2 separate regions of the Homo sapiens genome follow, and region 2 is linked to region 1. A link means that fine-mapping ties the variant in region 1 to the expression of a gene that starts in the linked region. Tissue or cell type: non-classical monocytes. Region 1 holds a variant in brackets; the other region holds the start of a gene. All regions are shown on one strand. Distances are between the middles of the regions.

Evidence for each region. PIP is the estimated chance that this variant, and not a neighbour inherited with it, causes the effect.
Region 2: it holds the start of PATL2, and the variant in region 1 is fine-mapped to the expression of PATL2 in non-classical monocytes (Schmiedel 2018, PIP 0.95).

The regions. Positions count from the first base shown.
Region 1 is chr15:45,236,603-45,244,866 of GRCh38, reverse strand. No RefSeq gene overlaps it. Among named protein-coding and RNA genes, the nearest start is that of SLC28A2, 11 kb to the left of the region's middle. The variant A/G (reference allele first, on the strand shown) is at 4,795.
Region 2 is chr15:44,706,995-44,714,994 of GRCh38, reverse strand. PATL2 (PAT1 homolog 2) reads left to right here and starts at 3,672. Exons shown (of 18, transcript NM_001387263.1): 1 at 3,672-3,975; 2 at 4,066-4,124; 3 at 4,781-4,899. B2M (beta-2-microglobulin) reads right to left here and starts at 3,478. Exons shown (of 4, transcript NM_004048.4): 1 at 3,382-3,478. The coding sequence starts at 3,448. RefSeq lists an enhancer at 2,995-3,657.

The DNA.
Region 1 (8,264 bases):
CTCCTGACCTCAAGGCTGGTCTTGAACTCCTGAACACCCACCTTGGCCTCCCAAAGTGCTGGGATTGCAGGTGTAAGCCACCTTGCCCTGCCTGTTAAAGCAACTTTAAAACTAAGGAGATAGTTTTCCTTATCATTTTTAAGTTTAAAGACTCATAAATGCAGTTAATTATACAAAATTAACTACATCATTCTACTAAAAGTATACACTAAAACCATCATCATAGCTTCCAACTACAGTTGACCCTTGAACAGCACGGATTTGAATTGTGTGGGTCTGCTTACATGCAGATTTTCTTCTGCCTCTGCCGCTCCTCAGATAGCAAGACCAACCCCTCCCCTTCCTTCTCCTCCTCAGCCTATTTGATGTGAAGACAATGAGGATGAAGACCTTTAAAATAATCCACTTATTATATGGAGAATTTAAAATAATTAAGATTAACATGTTAAAGGCTGTAGTGGAAAAGGAGGAAAACATGCATAAAGAGATGAGGACTGACTGGGCGACATGGCTCATGCCTGCAATCCCAATACTTTAGGAGGCCGAGGCAGGCAGATCACTAGAGGTCAGGAGTTTGAGATCAGCCTGGCCAACATGGTGAAAGCTCACCTCTACTAAAACTACACAAAAATTAGCCAGGCATGGTGGCACGTACCTATAGCCTCAGCTACTTAAGAGACTGAGGCAGGAGAATCACTTGAACCTGGGAGGTGGAGGTTGCAGTGAGTCAGGATTGTGCCACTGCACTCCAGCCTGGGCAACACAGTGAGACTCCATCTCAAAAAAAAAAAAAAAAAAAAAAAAAAAAAAAAAAAAAAAAGACTGTCAGGAGAGAAGAAAACTATAAGAAAGGACCAAATGAAAGTGCTAAAAATAAAAAAACATGGTAACAAATATGAAGAATAGCTCTGACAGGCTTATTGGCAGACTCAGCTTAACTAAGAAGAGAATCAGTGAACTTAAAAACAAGTCAAATCCCAGTGTCATGGTGCACATCTATATTCTCAGCTACTTTGGAGGCTGAGGTGGGAGGATTGTTTGACCCTAGGAGTTCTATCTTCCCCTTTTATCTCTTCTTTCTGGGACTCAAATTAAATGTACACCAGGCCACTTAATGATATTTCATGAATCTCTAATATGGTGTTCTCGCTGTTTCTTCCAGTCTTTTTTTCTCTGTATCTTTCAGTTTGATTTTTCTTCTATGATGTCTAAGCTGCTATTAATCCTATCCAGTGTACTTTTCATTTCAGATGTTGTATTTTTCATATTCAGAGGTTCTATTTCTTTTTTTCTTTCTTTTTTTTTTTTGAGGTGGAGTCTCACTCTGTCGGCCAAGCTAGAGTGTAATGGCATGATCTCGGCTCACTGCAACCTTTGCCTCTGGATTCAAGTGATTCTCTTGTCTCAGCCTCCCAAGTAGCTGGGATTACAGGCACACACTGCCATGCCCAGCTAATTTTTTGTATTTTTAGGGATGGGGTTTCACTATGTTGCCCAGGCTGGACTCGGACTCCTGAGCTGAGACAATCCACCCACCTCAGCCTCCCAAAGTGCTAGAATTATAGGCATGAGCCACCACACCTGGCCCAGAGTTCTATTTCAAATCTCTTTTTATGTCTTTCATTTATATCTCCATCAAGCTCATTACTTCCTCTACCTTCTTTAACATAAGTTAATGTATAAGGGATGTATTAAAATACCTGTTTTAGCTGGGTGCAGTGGCTCACACCTGTAATCCCAACACTTTGGGAGGCCTAGGAAGGTGGATCACCTGAGGTCAAGAGTTCGAGACCTGTGAGAAAGAGAGTTTCTGAGGTGCCAGTTGAGTTGGACTCCCCTGTGTGAGACACACATGGGAAGCCATGGGCGGCCTCTGAGGAGAAAAGTCTCCTTATTGCCTTCATGTCTTTATGCCCGAAGAGCATAACTGCTCAGTGGCATTCCACAGGTTGCTCAGGGAGATAACACTCCCTTGAAGCAGTGGAGTATAATCAAACATCTTGGCTCCTCCTGAAACCTGCTCCAACCCATTTCAGTCCCGATAAGTTCAAGATCTTAAGTAGTTTAGACACACGCCTTTGTTCAAGGAAATTCACAGAAACCGCCACTGCTATACATCTTATCGAATGACTCATGAGTTCTCCTTCACTGATTAATCCTTTTCCTCATCCCTTCCTCCCCCTCCCATCTGCCCTAAGAACAAAGAGCTTGTAAACCGATAAATTGGGGCAGAGCCTGAGAGCTCTGGGCTGTGAGCAAGCCTCCGATGCTCCAGTCCCCTGGACCCGCCTTTTAAACGCTATTCTGTCTCTTTCTAACTCCTTTGTTTCCTCTAGACTCAGTGTACCCGCTGGGTGATGTGGGGCTGGTTTCCCCAACATCTGGCGCCCAACATGGGGCTCCCCATAATCTCTACAAATAATCCAGTGAAGAAACGCCAGAGTGTGGAAAGTGGAGGACGACTGATGAAGGATGCCTGAGTACGTTTTTACTTCAGGCTCTATGGGTAAGTAGGGCACTTGGAGAATTCCAGGGTAACCTCAGGAAAATATGGGTCAGGCTGAAAGTAAGTTTGTTAATTACTTAAGCCTGGTGCGGCAGTTATTGTGCCGTGGTGGGGGGTAATTGTGAGTACCCAAAATCTCACATCTTTGTTCCATCTCGTAGAAAAGTATTCTCCTTGGTTCCTGGAATATGGAACCATGAATGTAAAAGATTGGGACAAGGTTGGATCAGACTTAAAACGAGCACAACAAGAGGGCCACGATATTCCTTTCTCCGCTTGGTCTGTGTGGTCAGCAATTAAAACAGCACTAGAGCCCTTCCACGCTGAGGAGGAGAAGGAGTTTCAGGATGACATAGAAAAGTTTAATAATCAGGATTCTGATGATCAGCAAAGTGAACCATCACAGTCTAATTTTAAAAAGGGGAAGAAACAGGAAGCTATATATGCTAACCTCCAAAAACTTATGAAAGAAACAGTTCCACCTACTGCAGAAATAGTGCCACCTACTGTGCCTTTAGGGGAAGGTCCGGAATGGCCACCCCCACCTCAGCCTTATGAATTTTTGAAATGAGAGCCTGAGATGCAGCTTGTCACTCCCATTGTTGCACGCCCCACCATTAACTGTGGCAAAGGGAAGCTTCAGGCTGGCCCAACAGCCAATTACAGTGAGGGAATGATCCAGGCTTGTCCACCTGTTAATTATAGTAAAGGAATGCTGCAAGCCGGCCCAAATACAAATTATGGCACAGGGACAATCCAGGCATCCATTCGCCAGGGATGAGAAATCAGGGATTTGGATGCTTGGCAGTTTCTGGTAATTATTTCGCCAGCTGAGGAGCCCAGAGAACATGCCCAAGCACGCTAGGAGCCATTTCCTTTTAAAATATTAAAAGACTTAAAGCAAGCAATAGGACAATATGGGCCGAATTCTCCTTATGTTCATTCCTTGTTACAATCTGTGGCTTATAACAGGTGTTTAATACCTATGGATTGGGAGTCATTAGCCCAATCCACCCTATCCCCCTCTCCATTTCTGCAATTTAAAGCCTGGTGTACAGATGAAGCAACAAATCAGGCATGCAGAAATGCTCAAGCTCAACCTCCCATTAATATCACATCTGATCAATTGCTTGGAATCGGACAGGCATGAGGTACTATAAATCAACAGATGGTAATGGGTGATGAGGCTGTTGATCAGCTCAGAAGTATATGCCTAAGAGCCTGGGAAAAAATTCATGACCCTGGTACTACTTATCCTTCTTTTAACTCAGTTCGACAGGGTCCAAGGGAGCCTCATCCAGATTTTATCGCCCGTTTGCAAGACACAGCTCAAAGGCTATTTTGGATTCTCATGCCAGGAAAGTTCAACTGCTTGCTTATGAAAATGCTAATACAGAATGTCAGGCAGCAATTAGACCTATTAAGGGAAAGGCAGATCTAAATGAGGAAAAAACTTTAAGTGAATACATTAAAGCCTGCAGTGGCATTAGGGATCACTTATATAAGGCCATCCTCCTTGCTCAGGCAATGGCTGGACTAAGGGTAACAAAAAACACACGAGTGTTCCCTGGATCTTGATATAATTGTGGACAGATAGGACATACAAAAAGAGAATGTAGAAAGAGCCAAAAAAGGCAAAACTCAGGAGGAAAAAGCAGGGAACCAGGGACCTGTCCTAGATGTAAAAAAGGAAAACACTGGTCTAATCAATGTCATTCAAAGTTTGATAACAGAGGACAGCCCTTGCCAGGAAGCAGACAGAGGGGCCAGCCCTGGGCCCCGATTCAAAATGGGGCATTCCCAATTCAGGATGGGACATCCCTGACTCCAAACAGAGTGTTCCTGGCCCAGCCTATCCCTGTACAAATGTACAGCAATTGTCCCCCTCCACAGCTAAAAGCAGGGCAGTAGATTTATGCTGTACGGAAGCTGTATCCCTCCTTCCTGAGGAGCCTCCTAGGAAGGTCTCAATGGGAGTTTATGGCCCATTGCCAAATGTCACAGTGGGACTTATACTGGGAAGGTCCAGCTTAAACTTAAAAGGAATTCAAGTACATACTGGAGTAGTGGACTCTGATTGCCAGGGAGAAATTCAAATTGTTATCTCCTCCACTGTTCCCTGGAGTGCTAATCCAGGTGACAGAATAGCTCAAATGTTGCTTTTACCATATGTTAAGTTAGGAGAAAGCTCAGAAAAAAGAACAGGAGGATTTGGAAGCACGAATTCAGCAGGCAAGGCTGCCTATTGGGTAAATCAAGTCTCTGACAATAGTCCTATTTGTATGGTC[A/G]CTATTCAAGGAAAACAATTTGAGGGTCTGGTCGACACAGGAGCAGATGTGTCGATCATAGCTCTTTATCAATGGCCAAAAAACTGGCCCAAACAAAAGGCCCCAGTGGGTCTTGTTGGGGTCAGAACTGCTTCAGAAGTTTTCCAAAGTACTTTTATCTTACCGTGTCTTGGTCCAGAAGAACAGGAAGGCACAATACAACCTCTAATTACATCCATTCCTGTTAACTTATGGGGGAGAGATCTGCTTCACAAATGGGGCAGAGAAATTTCAATCCCTTCTCCCTGGTATGGTCAAGCCAGTCAAAAAATAATGTCAAACATGGGCTATGTTCCTGGAAAAGGCCTAGGAAAACAGGAGATGGGCATTACTGAACCCATACAGGTTACTGTAAAAAATGACTGAACAGGATTAGGTTACCATTTTTAGGGGCAGTCACCGTTGAGCCTCCAAATCCTATTCCCTTAAAATGGAAGACCCAAAATCCTGTTTGGGTCAAGCAGTGGCTGCTTTCTCAGGAAAAATTGGGGGCCTTACAGGAATTAGTCAAAGAGCAATTAAACAAAGGAAACATTGAGCCCACATTTTCTCCATGGAATTAGCCAGTGTTTGTAATAAATAAAAAAATGCAGCAGATGCCACATGCTAACCGACTTACAAGTGGTCAGTGCAGTCATCCAGCCAATGGGGTCCCTGCAGCCAGGGCTTCCATCCTTCACCATGATTCCTAGAGACTGGCCATTAATAATTATAGATTTGAAGTATTGCTTTTGTAATATTCCTCTAGCAGAGTCTAATTTTGAGAAATTTGCTTTTACTATTCCTGCTATGAACAAACAACAGGGAACCAGCAGCCAGATATCATTGGAAAGTCCTGCTGCAGGGTAGGTTGAATAGTCCTACTATTTGTCAAACTTTTGTGGGGAAGGCTACTCAACCTGTGAGAGATCAGTTTCCCGATTCGTATATCATTCATTATATGGATGACATATTGTGTGCAGCCGAAAATCAAGACCAACTTATCCAGTGTTATTCATATTTACAGGAGGTGGTAGCCAGTGCTGGATTGTTCATAGCACCAGATAAAATTCAAACGGTCACTCCTTTCCAATATTTGGGAATGCAGGTTCAGGAAAGGGCAATTAAACCCCAAAAGGTTCAAATTCGAAAAGACTCTCTGAAAACTTTAAAGGATTTTCAAAAATTACTAGGGGATATCAATTGGATTTGACCTACTTTGGGAATCCCTACCTATGCTATGTCTAATCTGTTCTCTATTTTAAGAGGAGACCCTGCTCTCAATAGTAAACAAGAACTGACTCCTGAGGCTGCCAAAGAATTACAAATGATTGAAGAAAAAATACAACAGGCCCAGGTTAATAGAATAGACTCAAGTTTACCATTATAGTTCATTGTGTTCCCTACTTTCCATTCTCCTACAGGGGTTATAGTTCAGAGTGAGGACTTAGTTGAATGTTCTTTTCTGCCTCACAATACTGTTAGAACACTCACAGTATACTTGGACCAGATCGTAATCTTGATTGGACAAGCTCGCCTTAGAGTTGTTAAACTTTGTGGCTCAGATCCAGATAAGATTATAGTTTCAATGAATAAAAATCAGATTCAGCAAGCCTTTCTTAATTCAGTCAATTGGCAAATAAATTTAGCTGGCTTCACTGAAGTTCTTGACAATCATTATCCAAAAAACAAAATTTTTCAGTTTTTAAAGCTAACAACATGGGTCCTTCCAAAAATTACCCATAGTACTCCATTGGAAGGAGCAGTGACTGTGTTTACAGATGGCTCTAGCAATGGAAAAGCAGCTTATGTTGGACCTAAAAACAGAATTATTCAAACTGACTTTGAATCAGCACAGAGGACTGAATTACAGGCAGTTATAGCTGTGTTAGAAGACTTTAAGCAACCTGTAAATATTGTCTCTGATTCAGCTTATGTTGTTCAAACCACTCAATACATATAAACTGCACTCACTAAATATCTTGCAGATGAACAACTCTATCAGCTGTTTTCTTCTTTACAAAAGGCAGTGCATGATCGCTGTTTTCCTTTCTATATTATGCACATTTGAGGACACATTAATCTCCCAGGGCCACTTGTAAGGGCTAACTATCAAGCTGATTTGCTAGTTTCCACTGTGCTTACTAATGCCCAAGATTTTCACTCCCTAACACATGTTAGCAGCAGGACTTAAACAAAAATGTCAGATTACTTGGAGACAGGCAAAGGACATTGTGCAACATTGCCCTCAGTGCCAGGTACTACAACTGCCACGTGAAGGGACTGGTGTTAATCCGTGGGGATTAACCCACAATATGTTGTGGCAAATGGACGTAACCCATGTACCTTCATTCAGGAAACTTTCATACGTCCATGTTACTATAGATACCTTTTCTCATTTTGTATGGGCAGCTTGCCAAACAGGTGAGGCAGCTGCTCATATTAAAAGACATTTACTTTTTTGTTTTGCTGCCATGGACATCCCACAAAAGATTAAAACAGACAGTGGCCCAGGCTACTATAGTAAATCTTCACAAGCGTTTCTTCAACAATGGCACATTGAGCACAGTAGTGGAATACCCTGTAATTCTCAAGGCCAAGACATTGTTGAACAGGCTAATCGAACCTTAAAATCTCAATTACAAAAACAAAAGACAGAGGGGGGAACCAGAGAACACTCTACTCTCCATATGCAGCTATAATTGGCTCTTATCACTTTAAATTTTTTGAATTTGTCTAGAGATCAGGTTACAACGGCAGCAGAGCAGCATTTGACAGGACAAAAAATAAATCCTCATGAAGGAAAACATGTAGTGGAAGGACGTCAGAACCAAACTTGGGAAAAGGGCAAAATCATTACATGGGGTCGAGGGTTTTGCTTGTATCTTGCCAGGAGAGAATCAGCTTCCTGTCTGGGTACCCACAAGACATCTTAAGCTGTGCCATGAGCCAGAATCCAAGGAAGAGGAAAAGACCTCGGAATGTCCCTGCACCCCTGGTTCATCAGATGGCTCAGATGAACATCTCTGTTGAGCAGATGGAAACCAGTAAAACTTGCCAAGCAACTCCACCGACCTGTGGGCAGATGAGGAGACTAGCTCACATTGCAGACGAGAACCTGAGGTCTCAGAACAAGCTGCTGACCACCAGTAATCTAATGATAGCTATGATGGCAGTAATCTCCTTGGCGGTGAGTCTCCCCGTAGCTGGGGCAGATCAAAATTACATTTATTGGGCCTACATTCCATTCCCCCACTGATTAGGTCTGTTACATGGTTAGACCCCCTGGTGGAGGTTTATATTAATGATAGTGTCTGGATGCCTGGACCAACAGATAACCGAGGTCCTACTCATCCAGAGGAGGAAGGAATGTTAATGAATGTTTCCATTGGTTATCGCTTTCCTCCCATCTGCCTGGGGCCAGCAGCAGGATTTTTAAATTATGATAAACA
Region 2 (8,000 bases), 530 kb after region 1:
ATAGCCCCCATCAAATTACTCATGTTATTGTACTCTGTTTCCACCCCTTCCATTTTTTTTCTTATGTTTATGCCTTTCTTTTTGGTTCCTGCTCCTGCCTTGATCTACACCCATCTGATTTTCTAAACTGTATGAAGTGTCTAGTAGAGTGCCTGGGACATAGCAATTGCTCTATACGTGGCAGATGTTATTATCTGAGGTTCCTAAGTGGATCAACCCAAGGTATGTTCTTTATTTTTTTATTTTTTTATTTTTTGGGATGGAATCTCATTCCATTGCCCAGGCTGGAGTGCAGTGTGCAGTGGTGAGATCTCAGCTCACTGCAACCTCCGCCTCCTGGGTTCAAGTGATTCCTGGGACTACAGGCACACACCACCATGCCTGGTTAATTTTTGTATTTTCAGTAGAGACGGGATTTCACCATGTTGGCCAGGCTGGTCTTGAACTCCCAACTTCAAGTGATCAGCCTGCCTTGGCCTCCCAAAGTGTTGGGATTACAGGCACGAGCCACCGTGCCCAACCAACCCAAGGTATGTTCTTACCAAACAACAAAACCTCTTTATTTCTGCTGAGGTTTTATATGCCAGACCCCTCTCTGACTTTGTACCTAATTTCATGAGCTAAAAAACAAAGAAACAAAACCTAAATGCATACAAGAGCTGGCAAATACCTTAAATGGTTGAGTTGGACCCGATAAAATACAACAGGGATAGGTGAGGACTATGGCAAATGGGACAGAACATACTTTCCATTATGATCAAATGGAGTAATGCATGTGACAGTGGGATTTGCGTTTTAATTAGCATCCACAGGTGATTGCTGTAAACTAGCCAGGTTGGGAATATATTGCCTAATGTTTCAGAAACAGTACTTTCCAAAATGAGAGGCATGACTAGACCATCCATGGGGAAGTGGGAAGAAAATATTATAAACTCTATATTTTTCATTGAAAATGAAGAGAAGTGTTAGTGCTACTAAATATACAGATTGACACTAAATATATGTGTATAAAATTCTTTTAAATACACTTATATTCAGGGTACATGATCACTAAAAGGCAGCTACTCCTCCTTGTCTGGGAGGCTGTGGGGAGAAGGAGGAGTACCAGGCCACCTTGACCAGATATATCTCTCTAGAAACACCCTATCATTAAGGAAAGGCTACTAGCCCCATCAAGAGGTGGATTGGGGAATCTAATGAAGACCTGATTTTTTTCATAACATTAAAAGCTAAGAGAGCTCTTTGCATCTGAGCTTCTAATAATAAGAACATATTAAATGCCTCAGGGATCAGAGCACAGATTCATCCTGCCTGGAACTCTCTGTTTGAGGGAAGGCGGCAAGATTTTGTGAGAGCATCACTGTAATCTTTTCTAAGAAGAGGACAAGTATCAGACAGGCTGGGTTTGAATTTGGGCTCAACCAGTTACTGGCTTTATGACTTTTGGAGAGTTATTTAAGCTTCCAAAACTTAACTGAAAAATTAATTTATGCCCACAGTAAAACAAAAACAAAACCCACACACAGGTCAGAGGAGGAAAATAGACCTTCAGAGGCAATCATCATTACATGTTTCTTGTGGTATCTTCCAGAAATGGTCTATGCATGGCATGTATTACTTTGGAAATTTTCAAAATAAGATTTTTTTTTAAATATCAGATTGTTATTTTTTAAAATGACATCTAACATAACCAGCAAATACCAGTAATGGTGGTGATATATACATTATCCTTTATGTTGTAAATAAATTGTATTCAAATTAAATGCAATTTTCTCATGATCAAAACATTCTGCTTTCGATCATGTTTTGCCAGAGGAAAAGGTGAGCGCGCTTAGTGTATTGCCAGGTACTTAGAAAGTGCTCAAGATCTCTGGCGTCCTCAACAGTCTTGGTAACCATCTTGGATTATCTTTATTAATGGTTTTACAGCTCCCCTGACTGACAAACCTTCACTTCTTTCTTTCTTTTCTTTTCTCTTTCTTTTTTTTTTTTTTTCTTTTTTGAGAGACAGGGTCTCGCTCTGTTGCCCACGCTGGAGTGCACTGGCGCCATGATAGCTCAAAAGCCTAAGCTCAAGAGATCCTCCCGCCTCAGCCACCGGAGCAGCTGGGACCACAGGCACGAGCCACCACACCCGGCTAATTTTTGTTATTATTTTTTGTAGAGACCAGGCTTCACCATGTTGGCCAGGCTGGTCTCAACTACGGACCTCAAGCCATCCTCCCGCCTCGGCCTCCCTAAGTGCTGGGATTACAGGCGTAAGCTACCACGCCCAACCCCCTCATGTTTTCAAAACCGAAAGTAAGAGGCACAGTACATCTTGGAAACAACCAGGCAAAGAGCCAAAGAGGAAGCCCTCTGTACGAAAAGACCACAGGGCCCATGCCGCCCAGTTTGCTCTGGAGAATCTCACGCAGAAGGCAGGCGTTTTTCTTAAAAAAAAATGCACGAATTACAGCCAAAAGGCATGCGCTCCCGCAAAAGCCCTGGTTAGGCTTGACTTCAATCTCGATTGCTGCCATTTATCCCCTGTGTAATTAAGTTTCTTAAAATCTCGGTGCCTTAGTTTCTTCATCTGTGAGAGGCAGAAGATAACCATAGTAGTTATCTATGGCGGAAGATAACTGTTTTCAAAATTAAATGACGCAAAGCACATAAAGTCCTTGGCACACAGAAAGATGTCAATAACGGGTAGTTCTTATAATTTTTTAAAAGTGACATGTGATGGGAACAAATAAGTTAATTATTCGAAACCGCTTTGTATCACAGCCAAGCATTCTACAAACGTCGCGTGCTGTTTCCTCCCCACGGTGTGGCCCCACATAGACCCAGAGGTGCTAGGACATGCGAACTTAGCGGGCGCCTAGACGAAGTCCACAGCTCTCCAGTCTAAGGGAAGCAGAGCCGCAGCAGACAGGCTTACCCGGGCGACGCCTCCCCCAGACCCCAAGCGCCCCTCCACGCGTTCACAAACCTCAGCGCCGCGCCTTTGGGACGAGCCTACCCGTCCCCCACTCCAGCTGCGCTGGGGGAGCCAGAGGCCCCGCGAAAGAGCGGAAGAGAAACCCTCCCCCAACCTCGGCGCTCTGACGCTTATCGACGCCCTAAACTTTGTCCCGACCCTCCCGTCGCCGTAGGCCAAAGGTCTCCCCTGCTCCCCGCCGAAAGGGGCAAGTAGCGCGCGTCCCGGGTGCGCACCCCCTTCCCCACTCCCAGGCCACCCCGCCGCTTCCCCGAGATCCAGCCCTGGACTAGCCCCACGGCGGGCCACCAAGGAGAACTTGGAGAAGGGAAGTCACGGAGCGAGAGAGCACAGCGAGGGCCACAGAGGGTGCAGAGCGGGAGAGGAAGGACCAGAGCGGGAGGGTAGGAGAGACTCACGCTGGATAGCCTCCAGGCCAGAAAGAGAGAGTAGCGCGAGCACAGCTAAGGCCACGGAGCGAGACATCTCGGCCCGAATGCTGTCAGCTTCAGGAATGCCCGCCAGCGCGACGCCTCCACTTATATTAAACGCGTGCCCAGCCAATCAGGACAAGGCCCGCAGGGACCGTCACCTGTCTCCAAGCCAGCGACGCAGTGCCAGGTTAGAGAGAGGGACTTTCCCGTTTTCAGTTTCCTTTTCTTAGAGTCTCGTGATGTTTAAGAAGGCATGCACTAGACTGGGTGAGTTTGCTGTCTGTACATCGGCGCCCTCCGATCTGGGGTGCGCGCCCCAGCTTGGGACACCGGGCGCTCATTCTAGGACTTCAGGCTGGAGGCACATTAAGGCTGCCCCCTCGCTTTGCAGACTGGCCCCAGAGATGCTAAGTGACTTGCTAATGGTGCCCCAGCCAGTTAACTGCTCGGACCTGCATTTTTCATTCGAGAAAACGGAAACCCAGAAGATTAAGATCTTTGAATGCTACCTAGCAGAAGGAGAACTTCTGTTTATAACTACAGCTTGGGAATTCCCTGCAGGGTTTCTCCATTCTCTGGGTAAGAAAAATAGTCCCAAAAGCATCCTGAGGACAGCTCAGAGAAGGTCCTAGTGAAAGAGTACCTTTCTTGCTTCTTGTATCCCTTCAGGAAAAAGTGTTTGGAAAGTTCTGTGCCAAGAAGTTCCTCCCTATGTCCTTGCTGTTTAGGTAATTTTCTTTGTTCTGTTGATTTGTCGGGGGGCGGGGGGGAGAAAAAAACGACCACTAATAGTAAAAGCAGTAACTGCTAGGGCTTTAGAGCTTCCAGCGCCCTCTAGGTACATCATTCTCTTAGTTTCCACCCTAGAACAGGGGCTGGCACATAGTAGGTACTCAGTAAACCGAATGAACGAATGGATGGATGAATGAATGAATTAGTGAATATATAAATAAACTGTAGGAGGAAAGAATTACCCCCATTCATTTTATGGACAGGGGAAACAAAGGCTAAGAGACTAGAATTCAAACTCTGGCCTGATTCCATTGACATTAATATTTTAGACACTGGAAGACAAAGGGCTCGGCAATTTTAGTGAGAGTTTGGACTGCATCTGCCTTGGACCCAGCCAAGGACGTTAAACATGACAGGCAGACCCATTAAGAAAACCTACCCTCTAAAGTGACCATAAATAAGGTGCCGCCATTTCGTGGTGGTGGAGTCCACAGATCTTTTCTAAGAGGAACAGTGAGAAGAGGAAGTGGACCATGGCGATGGGGAGGGGCAGAGATCTTGGAAGTCACCATGGTTTTCAGTTGAAAGGATTTGCCTAGCTTCCCCAAGGAGCACAACAAATAACTTCTAGGTTTCTTTTACATATTTTTAGGCTTTTGATAATCTTTATTGTGGAGGCCATGCCTAAACTAAGAAAATGCAATACTCTCCATGGACCTAATGAAATGAGATAATGCACAAGAGAGAGCCTCCCACAATGCCTGGTACATAGTAAGTGTTCTGTAGTGTTTAATAAGCGCTATAATTATTAATATTATTTACCTAGTTTTTCTACCAGCCCTCTCAATAACTAAAATATGAGAATAATTGTTATGCCTAAATGTATGAGTTAAGACACTCTTGCTCCCTCCCTTTTCCCCCTTTTAAAAACTCATATAAGGCACTAAAGGCCTGAAATGTTAGTGTTGAGTTGTACTAGAAAAGTGCCTTAGAAGTTTAGCAAGGGACAGGGCTATTTTTGCCTCTAGTTTCTTGTTTACTACATCACAGAGAAACACTAAATTTAAAATCCATTACAGATAGATTCTGATTTACTCACTTGGAAAACCAATTTAAAAACCAATAAAAAACAGTACAGATAGAAAAAAGTCGATTTTACAGTTTTCTTTGGGGGGGAATACCTGTATTTTTCTTGGACTTACCATTTATGACATGTTTTGAATAGTGAGGGGGAAAATTATGTATACAACTATTTGTTTAAAAACAAGAGCACTGTTTGCCTAGGATGGCAAATTTGGGAAGTCTACAAACATGACAATTTCTTTTTTTTTTAATTTTTAATATTTTTGTGGAGACAGAGTCTTGCTGTGTTGCCCAGGCTGGTCTCGAACTCCTGGTCTCAAGTGATCCTCCTTCCCCAGCCTCCTAAAGTGCTAGGATCACAAGCATGTGTTACCACGCCCAGCCACAAATATGACAGTTTAATAGCTTTATCTCCCAGTAGTGCAATTAACAGATTAATAGCGGCCTTTTTTTCCCCTATATAACCCTCTTAAAATTTTTTTACAATGAACATTTATTCAAAGTAGTAAATGTTGGCAAGAATTTAGAAGAACTGGAACTCTCATACAATCCTGGTAGGAATATAAAATGGTATAAACAATTTGGGGCTGGATGTGGTGGCTCACACCTGTAATCTGAGCACTTTGGGAGGTCAAGGCGGGCAGATCACTTGAGATCAGGAGTTTGAGACCAGCCTGGCCAACATGGTGAAACCCTGTCTCTACTAAAAATACAAAAATTAGCTAGGCATGGTGGCAGGCATCTGTAACCCCAACTACTCAGGAGGCTGAGGCAGGAGAATTGCTTGAACCTGGGAGGCAGAGGTTGCAATGAGCCGAGATTGCACCACTGCACTCCAGCCTGGGCAACAGAGCAAGACTTCATCTCAAAAAGAAAAAAGAAAAAGGAAAACACTTCGACAGCTCTTTATAAAGTTAAACATACACTGGCCATAATATCCAGCCACTCCACCCAAGGTATTTGCCCAAGAGAAAATGAAAGCATATGTCTATACAAAGACTTGGACATTAATGTTTAATGTTTATAGCAGTTTTATTTGTGATAGCTGAAAACTAGAAACGATCCAACATACATCAACAGGTAAATGAATAAACCCATTGGAGTATATATCCATACAATGAAATACTATCATCAACAAACAAGGAATAAACTGTTGATACATGTAACATGGATGAAATAATCATGGTAAATAAAAGAAGTCAGACAGAAAAGAACATATACTATATGATTCTGTTTATATAAAACTCCAGAAAAGGCAAACTATAATCTATATGACAGAAAGTAGATGAGTGGTTTCTAGAGGGAAAGGAGATCATCTAAACATGAGGAAACTTTAGGGTTGATGGATATGTTAATTATCTAGAGTTCGATGATGATTTCAGTTATATTTTAGAACTTATTGTATACTTTAAGTGTAATATATTGTATGTCGATTATAAATATTTAAAAGGACATAGCTAGGGGAGGTGGAGCAAGATGGCTGAATAGACGCCTCCACTAATCCTGCTCCCTGCAGGAACACCAAATTGAATAATGATCCACACAAAAAAAAGCACCTTCATAAGAACCAAAAATCAGGTGAGTGATCACAGTACCTGGTTTTAACTTCGTATCACTGAAAGAGTAACTGAAGAGGGTAAGACAGTCTTGAATTGCTAAATGCTATCTCTCCCCCATTCGCCGGCAGCGGCCACCTGGCATGGAGAGAGAATGTGTGCTTCTGGGAGAGGAAGAGTGCAGTGATTTTCAGACTTTGCATTGGAACTCAGTGCTGCCCAGTCATAGCACAAAGCAACACTGGGAAGAACTCACCCAGGTCCCATGGAGGGATCATTTAGACCAGCCCTAGCTAGAGGCAAATCACCCATCCCAGCAGTGGGAACCTGAGTTCCAGTAAGCCTCCCCACCATGGGCTGAAGTGCTCTGAGGTTCTACATAAACTTGAAAGGCAGTCTAGGCCACAAGGATGGCAATTCCTGGGTAAGTCCTGGTGCTGTGCTGGGCTCAGAGCCAGTGAATGTGGGGGGCACACAACCTAGTGAGACACTAGCTGGGATGGCCAAGGGATTGCTTGCACCACCCCTCTCCCAACCCCAGGCAGGGCAGCTCAAAGCTCAGAGAGAGACTTCTTTCCTCTGCTTGAGAAGAGGAGAGGGAAGAACAAAGATGAGTTTGTCTTGCATTGGATACCAGCTCAGCTGCAGTAGGATAGGGCACCAGGCAAAGTCCTGAGGCCCACATTCCAGGCCATAGCTCCAAGCTGACATTTCTAGCCACACCCTGGGCCAGAAGGGAACCTGCTGCCTTGAAGGGAAGGACCAGTCCTGGCAGGATTCCTCACCAGCTGACTAAAGAGCCCTTTGGCCCTGAATAATCAGAAGTAGCCAGGTAGTACTCATCATGGGCTTTGGGTGAGACTCAGAGACGTGCAGGCTTAAGGTGTGACCCAGCACATTACAGCTGTGGTGGCTATGGGGAGAAATTCCTTCTGCTTGAGAAAAGAAGTGGAAAGAGTAAAGGGGACTTGGCCACTGTGGGGTTAGAATACCAAGTGGCCTCTTAAGGTCCCTGATTCCAGGCTTTGGCTCTTAGATAGCATTCCTGGACCTGCTCTGGGCCAGAGGGGAGCCTGCTTCCCTGAAGGGTGAGTCCCAGGCTGGGCAGCGTTCACCACAAGCTTACTGCAGAGCCCTTGGGCCTTGAGTATACATCAGCAGTAGCCAGACAGTACCCACCACAGGCCTGGGGTGGAAGTGGCCATGGCAAGAGACTCCTCAGCTTGTGGAAAG